Regions from separate parts of the Homo sapiens genome. Here region 1 is linked to region 2. The links come from fine-mapping of genetic effects on gene expression. A gene starts in region 2. The other region holds a variant in brackets. All regions are shown on one strand. Distances are from middle to middle.

The links. PIP is the estimated chance that this variant, and not a neighbour inherited with it, causes the effect.
Region 1: its variant is fine-mapped to the expression of AKT3-IT1 in thyroid (GTEx, PIP above 0.99).

What each region holds. Positions count from the first base shown.
Region 1 is chr1:243,601,450-243,606,831 of GRCh38, reverse strand. All of the region lies in intron 8 of AKT3 (AKT serine/threonine kinase 3), which reads left to right. Among named protein-coding and RNA genes, the nearest start is that of AKT3-IT1, 190 kb to the left of the region's middle. The variant G/A (reference allele first, on the strand shown) is at 3,213.
Region 2 is chr1:243,791,356-243,796,737 of GRCh38, reverse strand. It overlaps AKT3-IT1 (AKT3 intronic transcript 1), which reads left to right and starts at 2,338. Exons shown (of 2, transcript NR_046761.1): 1 at 2,338-2,478; 2 at 3,158-3,533. The region is part of intron 2 of AKT3 (AKT serine/threonine kinase 3); the gene reads left to right.

The DNA of each region.
Region 1 (5,382 bases), 190 kb after region 2:
GGGGGCCCTGCTTTTGGGCCCTGGCCCTGGCCCACAAAACTGTTTTTCCCTCCTAGGCCTCTGGGCCTATGATGGGAGGGGCTGCTGCAAAGGTCTCTGAAATGCCCTGAAGACATTTTCTCCTTTGTCTTGGTGATTAACATCTGGCTCCTTGTTACTTATGCCAACTTTTGCAGTGGGCTTGAATTTCTCCCCACAAAATGGGTTTTTCTTTTCTATTGTATTGTCAGGCTGCAAATTTTGCAAACTTTTCTTCTCCGCGTTCTCTTCAATGCTTTGCCACTTAGAAATTTCCTCCACCAGATACCCCCAAATCATCTCCTTCAAGTTCAAAGTTCCTTAGATCTCTAGGGCAGGGGCAAAATGCCACCATTCTCTTTGGTAAAGCATAGCAAGAGTCACCTTTACTCCACTTACCAGTAAGTTCCTCGTCTTCATCTGAGGCCACCTCAGCCTGGACTTTATTGTCCATATCACTGTCAGCATTTTGGTCAAAGCTATTCAACAAGTCTCTAGGAAGTTCCAAACTTTCTCACGTTTTTCTGTCTTCTTTTGAGCCCTCCATACTGTTCCAGCCTTGCCTGTTACCTGGTTGGAAAGCTGTTTTTACATTTTTGGGTATCTTTACAGCAGCACCACACTCTCTGTGGTACCAATGTACTGTATTAGTCCATTCTCTGTTCTCATGCTGCTGTGAACTGCCCGAGACTGGGTAATTTATAAAGGAAAGAGGTTTAATTGACTCAGTTCTGCAGGGCTGGGGAGACCTTAGGAAACCTACAATCGTGGTGAAAGGGGAAGCAAACATGTCCTTCTTCACATAGGAGCAGGAGAGAGAAGTGCTAAGCAAAGGAGGAAAAGCCCCTTATAAAACCATCAGATTTCATCAGAACTCACTCACTATCAGCAGAACAGCATGGAGATAACCAGCCCTGTGATTCAATTACCTTCCAGTGGATCCCTCCCACAACACATTGGGATTATGGGAACTACAGTTCAAGATGAGATTTGGGTGGGAACACAGCCAAACCATATCTGCCTACCAGCAAGTTTCTCAGGCCATATCCCAGTTGTTAAGTAATGCATGACTGTATTTGGAGCACTAAAAATTTTTGATGAAAGTGAATTGTGAAAGAAATGTTGGCTGTGAAAAATCAGCCCTAACTTCTTACGGTCGTATTGGTACAATGGAATTTCATCATAGTTGCATGTAATTTATATGAATTCAAAGAAGTGGGCTCAATAAGATATAGCTGAGATAGACAAGTTGATTTAAATGATGTGATTATTCTGCTCTTTTTCTCAATTTCTCAATGAGTGTATTTACAGAGTGACCTTAGGATGAGAGATATAAATTTGCTATTCTTTACTCCTTGTTACTTCCTACTTTCCATGCATAGAGCTTCATGGAATATAAACTCTGGTGTTTTAAAATACAAAACTTACATAAAATGTCATTGAGTGCATTGTAACTGCAGGTGTTCATTTAAAGAAACTATTTTCTGGCCAGGCCTGGTGGCTCATGCCTGTAATTCTGGTGCTTTGGGCAGCTGAGATAGGAGGATTGCTTGAGGCCAGGAGTTTGAGACCAGCCTGGCGAACATGGTGAGATCCCGTGTCAAAAAAAAAAAAAAGTTAGCCATGTATGGTGATGTGTACCTGTAGTCCTAGTAAATTAATCAGGAAAGCTGAGGTGGGAAGTTCACTTGAGCCGAGGAACTCAGGGTTATAGTGAGCCATGGTTGTGCTACTGCACTCCAGCGTGGGCAACAGAGTGAGACCCTGTCTCTAAAGAAAATAAAAGAAAAAAGACTATATTATTGTACCAAAGATAGAAAACTGTCCTGGGTTTAACTATGTCGAGAGATGACAGTATGTTGGTCTCCAGTGTAATACCGTTCTAAGGAATGTTTGGGAGTGATTTGATTATTTTTGATACCTTATGGATTAACTTTATAATCTAGTACATTATCATTCATCTATTAAATAATGAGCAACTTCTGTGGGCTAGACCTCAGAAGATTCATAAATAAGGAAAACATACTATTTTTCCTTTGATGAGTGACTTACTGGGGAGATAGATGAGAAAATACTTGTATACACTGCAGTGACATGGTTGCTCTGATAATACTGGTTACTGTGCATGGAGAGAATGAGCACTTTAATGAACCTGAGGAGCAGAGGAAAGGAAAGCAAAGGGTGCCAGAGTAGGAAACTCTTCTTAAAAAGTGGTTGCTAGGCTAAGACGTAAGAATAACTATACATTATATCACTAAGGTTGGGAAGGAGAGCATTCCTACACAGGTAAAATGGCATGTGTAGAGTACACAGGAGCAGACAGGTTCCCCCACCCACCGAATATAGCACAGTGTGGATAATGCATAGAGTTCTGCAGAGGAAAGCCAGAGAGTCTGCACAGGTAGTCAGAATCACATTAAGACAGATCTTCACTCTCAAGTCATTTAGATGAAGGCAGTGGAGCATCATGGAAGAATTTCTTTGGGGGAAATGTTTAGAAAGAATACTTGGCAGTATAGAGGTTGAAGTAGAGAGGACAAAAGTGGAAGCAAGGAAAATACTTGGGAGGTTGCTGCAGTTAGAAGGTTTTCAGTAATTCACTTATAAAAATGATAAGGTTGTCGGATGTGGTGGCTCATGCTTGGAATCTCAGCACTATGGGAGGCTGAGGTGGGTGGATCACCTGAGGCCAGGAGTTTGAGACCAGCCTGACCAACATGGAGAAACCCCGTCTGTACTAAAAATACAAAATTAGCCAGGCCTGGTGGCGCATGCCTGTAATCCCAGCTACTTGGGAGGCTGAGGCAGGAGAATTGCTTGAACCTGGGAGGTGGAGATTGCAGTGAGCCTAGATTGCACCATTGTGCTCCAGCCTGGGCAACAAGAGCAAAACTCCATCTCAAAAAAAAAAAAAAAAAAGATTATTAATTGAAGCAGTGTTAGAAGGAAGCAAATTCTAGTAATATTTAGTTATTAGAATCACCAGGATTTAATGAATAAATATGCAGAGAAGTATCATATGATTTCCTGTTTGCTGCTTGGGGAATTGTGGATACTGGAGTATTTATAAAAATAGAAAACACAGGGAGAAGAATGAGTTCTTAAGCAGATCATGCTATATTTGAGGCACCTAGTGTGGCAGCCAAGGAGTGGGGAGAGTTAAATCAGAGATACAAATAGGCATCATGAGCAGT[G/A]TTAAAACCCAGGAAGTGAGGAAATATCCAATGTGAGGAAAGTATGTACAGTTAGAACATCAGTGGCCAAGGATGGTGCCTGGAAATGCCAGAGTAAGGCATGCTGTAGACACAGCTGTAGATGCAGTGAGACTAGTGCACAGGTGTAGAGGCAGAGAGAAGCCTAAGGAGGATCCTGGGCAGGAGGAGCCAGACAAGAGAAGCCTTAGAAGTTAAGGAGAGATTAGGTACAACAGAGTATATTAAATACTGTACAATGATAACTGAGAATTGTCCATTGGATTTGCCATCTAATAGTTCCTATGGAGACTACCAGGGATTCTTCCTTTTCTGGTTTGGTACAAGGTATGCACCTTGGCTGTAGTACAGAATGTAAAAGGGTTGGTTTGGAGCCCAGTAGAACAAGGTTGTAAGAGTGAGTTCAGTGCAATTTCAGTGGGGCATTTGTAGAACTGATTGTAAAATCTCTCTAATAATATGACCAATCACACTGCTAATATATCCAGGCAGCTCTCTTTTTATTCCTTAAATGTTACTAAATTTACATGAGAAGCAGAAAAATATCCTGGGAGAATAAAGTAGACAAAATTGACTAAGGAGGTGTTTTTGTTTTCTTTGGTTTAGGAAGTCTCTACTTAGGACTTGTTTCCAAAATCTTACTCATAGCTTCATTTATTTCAGGCTTATTTGTTGGACCTCTGCAAATCTCTCTCAAGTCTGAAGTTTCCTGAAGTTAAAGATTCATTAGGGGAGTAAAGGAAAATCATTGTGTAGAAATGCTATTCATCTGATAAATTCTTCACATTCCTCTATTTTCTTTATGTAGGTTGTAATGAAGCTAACAGTTTCAGTTATGTACTACTATTTTTGTCCATACTTAGTTCATTGTAAACTCTATATTAATTTCTTTGATAACATGTATTTGATTTTTTTGCAATACGGCTTTCAGGTTCTTGCCATTCTTGAGATTCTCATGCTTATTCAGATTTCTCATTTGGCTGGCATTTTGTTATCAGTGAACCAAAATTATCTCATTTTAAATTCACATAAGACAAAAGCACCAGTAGTCAGTATTCTAGTTCTCCTTACTAATTTACGGAGGTGTGATCTGGGTGATTTTTAAATTAATTTAATTATCATTTCATATTCATAGTGATGATTTTTAAAATTTTACAAAGTTTTCAGGTATATAAACATCTTTATTGTCAGGTGTCTGACAAGCTAATTTCTTTGCTAACTATTTTAGTTATTAATATATTATGTAGGTTGTATCAGAATTTTGTTTTTCACCCAATGCTTTTTCAAAATTCCCAAGTCAAGAAGGATGCATTACAATGTTTACATTAGCATCTAAAGGCAATGTAAAGTCGGGAAGCATTTTTAGTATATAATTTCATAATTCAAAGACATTTTTAAAAAATGAATGGTTAAACCAGTATCTCACTGCATTAAATGTAATTGAATGCATTGAATTTAGTTATTAGGAGATGTTATTACAAGCCTCAACATGTAACATGCTTGCTTACAAATCTAAAATCTCAGATCAAGTGGCTGGAACTGCAGGGGCCTGCCAGGCATCTGGGTATTTACATGATTCCTTTCCATGTGGTTATGGCAGAGCATGGCCATTTCAAGGTAGTCAAACTTCTTACACAAAGGCTGGCTTACCACAGAGTGGGTATTTCAAGGGAGGGAAAACAGAAGAAGCAACATATGTATAATTGGAAACCCTGAGGAGGAAAAAGAGGGCAGTGACACAAAACAGTATTTAAATATCAAAAACTATAATCTGAAAACATACTTACAGGCTTTTGTGTTCTCCATTTTTCACTTAGCATAATACTTTTAAAATTTATAGATACTGTTCCATATATCAGTAGTTTGTTTCTTTTTATGGCTTTGCTCCGTTGTGTGATGTACAGTCATATGTTTATATAGTTGCCCCTGGATAGACGTTTGGGTTCTTTACATTTTGGGCCTATTAGAATAAAAGCTCGTGAATATTCCAGTACAAATCTGTGTGTGAATATATATTTTTAATCTTCTTGGGTAAATACATAGAAATGCAATTTCTGTGTCATTTGTTATGATCAACTTCATTAAAAACTGCAGACTCTTTTCAAAATCAGCCATACCATTTTGCATTCCCAGGATGTTACTTGACAACATC
Region 2 (5,382 bases):
ATCTGAAAAATGAGAAGGGGCCATGCAAGAACTAGAAGAAGAACGTTACAAGCAGAGGAAAGAACATGTGCAAAGGCCCTGAGATAGCAATAAACTGGTTGGTGGTCTAGGCCAGTGTTGTCAGAATATATTAATAGTAGAGAAAAGTGCCTGGAAAGAATGGTATTAAATGGGATCAGAGATAGACATACATTGGCCGTATTATTTTAGGCTTTGAAAGACCTTGGCTTTTAAGTGGAGTGAGAAGCTGCTTATTAGGAAGTTTTAAGTGGGGGAGTGACTTAATCTGATTTCCATGTAACAGCAAAAGCAAAAATCACCCAGACTGCTGTGTGGACAAGCATCCTTGTGGATTCTAATGCAAGTCTGTGATCGGACTTTGAGAAATACTAATTTAGTCCTTAAGTCAGTATCCTGAGATAGCTGATTTCAAAAGAGCTCTCTCAGGGCTTCTGACCAAAAGTGACAGATTGGCTACACCTGTACATCTCTTCTTATTTCCTAATCCCTGCCTAAATGGAAGAAAGAAATCAGAGACTGGGAGAGGTTACAACAGGAGACAGAAGCTGCTATACCTCTTTCAAATAAGCAGATGGACAGGTAGTGACTGACTTTGCAGAGGAATCACACAGTACCTGTAAGTGCACAAAAATACCTGTAAGAAATGCAGTACTGTGTTTGTCCGAAGCTCCCAAGAGTCTCAGCATTTGGAGGCACCAGATACTAAGGAAGATAGGGGTCAGAAATGGAGCTGAAAACAGGGGAGCTGGTCGGAAAATCTGTGTACACTGACAGGTGGACCCCTACGATTTTCTCCCTATGTGCCCTTGTGGATGGGTGAGTCCCTTCACTACCAACTCCCTGGCCTCAGGAGAACAAGGTTTATTCTTTGCAAAATTAATGAAGAGCTGTCTGGACTTTGAAACCAGGGGCCGTGGATTGTTGCTTGGTTTAAAACAAGGAGATCGGCCGGGCGCGGTGGCTCACGCCTGTAATCCCAGCACTTTGGGAGGCCGAGGCGGGTGGATCACGAGGTCAGGAGATCGAGACCATCCCGGCTAAAACGGTGAAACCCCGTCTCTACTAAAAATACAAAAAATTAGCCGGGCGTAGTGGCGGGCGCCTGTAGTCCCAGCTACTTGGGAGGCTGAGGCAGGAGAATGGCGTGAACCCGGGAGGCGGAGCTTGCAGTGAGCCGAGATCCCGCCACTGCACTCCAGCCTGGGCGACAGAGCGAGACTCCGTCTCAAAAAAAAAAAAACCAAAAAAAAAAAACAAAAAAAAAAAACAAGGAGATCAAGGGAAACCTACGCCTGAACTATAGAAGTGTTAGCTCTCTTCCTCTGCTCTCCTTCCAGAACTGCACAGTCAAGCCTGTCCTATCCTTCTCCTGTGGAAGACTGAAGATAACAGCATCTTCAGATACTGATAGGCTTTCTGCTGAGAGTACCTTAAGTGAATTCTACCAGTCGTTAAGCCCTGTTTTCCCACACAGATCTTTCAGTTAGTTCTTTTCAGGGGCTTATTCTTAAATATGAGCAAACAATCTAACACCATTGGTCATCTGGGGGAAGACTCCAACATTAAAAAAAAAAAAAAGTAGACATAGAGAGGTGGAGAGGGAGTGATACTTGGAACACTGGGAGAAAACAGATACCATAAGGGATCAAAAGAAAACTTTAAAAATCTCCAGTATTATCAGAGAAGACATGTATTTCCTTCCCCACTTAAATGATAGTGAACACATATAAAAGCAGAAATCCATGAGGGTAAAGAGAACGAGATGAGAGATGACAGCAGGCAAACAACGTCAACTAAATATTGGAAGCTGAGAACCTGGTGCGTGAGTGGTAACAGAATTTAGCAGAGCTGAGAAAGCAGAAAGTCCTATGGTGTGGGTAGTTGTGCAAAAACTGGTATTCTTTTAATTAATGATGTGCTTTGCTCTATTTGGACTGCTGGGTTCTTATTTTTGAGCAGTATGCTCTCTCCCAGTTGAAGCTGTTAATGGGCTGTCCACCAATGGAGAAATCAGAATGATTAAAATGTAGTTCTTGTATTTTTATGGTTCTCTTAAGCAGTCATGCATTATACTCTTCTTCTTGTGTCTGAGCCAACATTTCATAGGAGTAGATAACACCCATTTCTGGTGGCACTGACAGCAGGGTTGAAAAGAATGTTATAAAAGAAAATATGAATAACATTTAACTTAAGAATATGTTCCAAATTTTGTTTGTAAAGTAGTTGTTTAAAACTTGGTAGTTCTTTTTGATATAATGTTATAAATGGCAGTTATCCTAGACCAAACTTTAAAATATGTTTCATTAGCAATTAAATGGGCATTTGTAAGTTCCCAGGGAAACCTAATCACATTGTATAGTATTTTTTAATGAAGAAACACTAGCTGGGTACAGTGGCTTATGCCTGTAATCCCAGCACTTTGGGAGGCCAAGGTAGATGAATAGCTTGAGTCCAGAAGTTTGAGACCAGCCTGGGCAACATGGTGAAACCTCATCTCTACAAAAAATACAGAAAAATTAGGTGGGCATGGTGGCTTGCGCCTGTAGTCCCAGCTAATTGGGAGGCTGAAGCGAGAGGATCACCTACGCCTGGGAGGTTGAGGCTGCAGTGAGCTGAGCCATGATCGTGCTACTGCACTGTACCCTGGGTGACAGAATGAGACCCTGTCTCAAAAAAAGAAAAAATGCTTTTTAATGGTAAAATGGCTACATGGATTTAGATTTAGACTTGAATTCAAGTCCTACTTCTACCATTTTTCTGCTATGTAACCATAAGTAAATTTCTAATGTTTCTGGGTCTCAGTAGAATGAGAATAATATCTAATCAGAGGGTAGTTGTGATGATTAATGGATGTTAAAGTAGATGAGCTACTCAGTCGAGCTCCTAGACCCTAGGGAGTCAATAAATAGTCGGTTTTCTTCACCCTTTTTTTTTTTTTTTGAGACAGTTTTGCTCTGTTGTTGAGGCTGGAGTGCAGAGTGCAGTGGTGCGATTATAGCTCACTGCAGCCTTGATCTCCTGGGCTCAAAGGATCCTCCCTTCTAAGCCTCCTGAGGAGCTAGGGCTACAGGTGTGCACCATTGTGTCTGGCTAATTTTATTTTTTTATAGATACAGGGTTTCACTGTGTTGCCCAGGCTGGTCTTGAACCCCTGGCCTCAAGAGATCCTCTCACTTCAGCCTCCCATAGCATGTGGGATTATAGGTGTGAGCTACTGTGCCCAGCTGTTGTTTTCAGTTTTACTCTTCTGTGGTATGTGGTAAGAGGGAGCATTTGTTTTCTAGAGCCTGCAGCATGTGTGGGTCAGTTGAAAATGTATAAAAATTTTGAGTTACGCACGGTGGCTTGTGCCTGTAATCCCAATACTTTGGGAGGCTGAGGAGGGAGGACTGCTTGTGCCAGGAGTTTAAGACTAGCCTGGGCAACATAGTGAGACCCTGTCCCTAAAAATATGTAAAAAAAATTTTAAAATAAAAATTTTGAAATGCAATTTGTGTCTTAAAATTCTGCCTTATTTATTTGCAACGTGTGTTTCTTGTCATGTATTTGCTGCTGTATGCTGGTAGAAAAAGCATAGAGAGTGGACTCAGGCAGTCCATGCTCTAGCCTCCTGTTCTACTCTGAACTAGATGTGTGACATTGTAAGTGCTGCTGCTTCACTTCGGGTGTTACTCCTGATTTGCACAGTGAAAAGTGTTTTATTACAAGATGATTTCTAGAAGTTTGTTTCTGTTCTGACATTAGATGACCTGTGATATGTGAAGCTTAAGACATCTTTTTTCATTACTGGGTTTATACGGGGTGTTGAGGCTTGTGATACATTTACTGTTATAAATTCATTTTAATGTGTTTGGAGGACTTGAGATGATTGGAGATTATTAGATTGATAGCTGATGTTTGGCTTTATTATTGGAAAATAGTTCTAGCTACGAAACCTGTTTTTGAGTGAAAGTATGCTAGGAATGGCCATTGCTTTTCTTCCTACAGAGATAAGTGATCTCTTGGTGTTGTACACATGAAGCTCTCACCTTTATTTTTAAAGTCATGGATTTTACCTTGGCTCCTATAAACTCTTCTCCCCTCCCCCATGTAGCTGTAAGCATTCCTACTCCTAGGATGATTTGGAATGTGTGTGTTTCAAATCATGTTTAGTGATTGTAAGGCTAATCTCAGCTTAATTATCACTGCCAAAGGAATCCTCTGACCCCCAGGGCCAGATCATGTTGTTTGCTTTCATGGTATATTTTTCCCTTTTCATAGTCCGGGTTATATATATAGATGTATAATTCCATAATATCTTGTCAGCAAAACTGGAAGCTCTGGGAGGGCAGTGACTGTATCTCTTTTGCTGACTTTTATCTATAATGTCGGGCACATGATTGGCAGCATTGGAGACATATTTTTGAGTTAAGTGAATAAATTGTTTCCCCACAAATAATAAATTAATAGAAATTTAATGGTAAAAGCTCAAAATGTTTATTAGAATCATGATGGTAGCCTTTGTTATTACCAGTGAATTTAAAAGGAAAGAATAACCAAGGTGTTTGTATAAATGACTTATTATTGTTTGTGCAAGAACAGTGAACGTTCCCTAGTACAGGAAGCAGCTTTAAAAAACTGCTGGCAGAACTAAGAAGTCAGACTGTCCTTGACCCCTAGATCAAATGTTTTTGAGCCTGAGTTTCCTTAAATCTTCTTCAGTTGAGAATAAACATTTTGACAAAATAGAAGATTTATTCTGTTAATTTTTGGTCTTCATAAACCTAACTAAATTTGCTAAAACAACAAAAACTTTCTAATTTTTACTAGTTTTGTTTTTTAAAAAGTTTGTTTCCTTTTAAGTGCATAACACTTTAAAATGAGCTCAGCTGTATTAGCAGATAAACATGTTGATTCATTTGGTCCAGAGCTACTGAATGAAGCTTGCAGGAGCACAGTTTGTTCTTTATGCCGCCCAGGGGCAGAATGTTTCTCTTCCTCTCCTCCTTATTGAGAGAAGGGGACTGGAATAAGTGACTCCTCTTATTTAGGTTTGCCTGAATTGTTGACGAGGGAAGGGGGCAAGATTTCTTCACCATTTATCCTTCGTCTCATTTAAATTCTGTTCATTAACATAAAGTATATGCACTCATACTGTGATATACATGTTGAATTATTAGTGTCATATATTTACAGTTTTTACAAAACCATTTTACTTAATGCTCTGGTTTGAGTAATCTGTTGTTTAAAGGTATAATGAATCAGAGTTGTTTTTAGGCGTATTGCGTTTTTGAGGATGGACTTAATTTTGGAAGCAAAGAGAAGTATGTTCTATCCAGTGGAGTGGAGTTGAGATAATAGGTATGCAGTTCGCCTCTCATA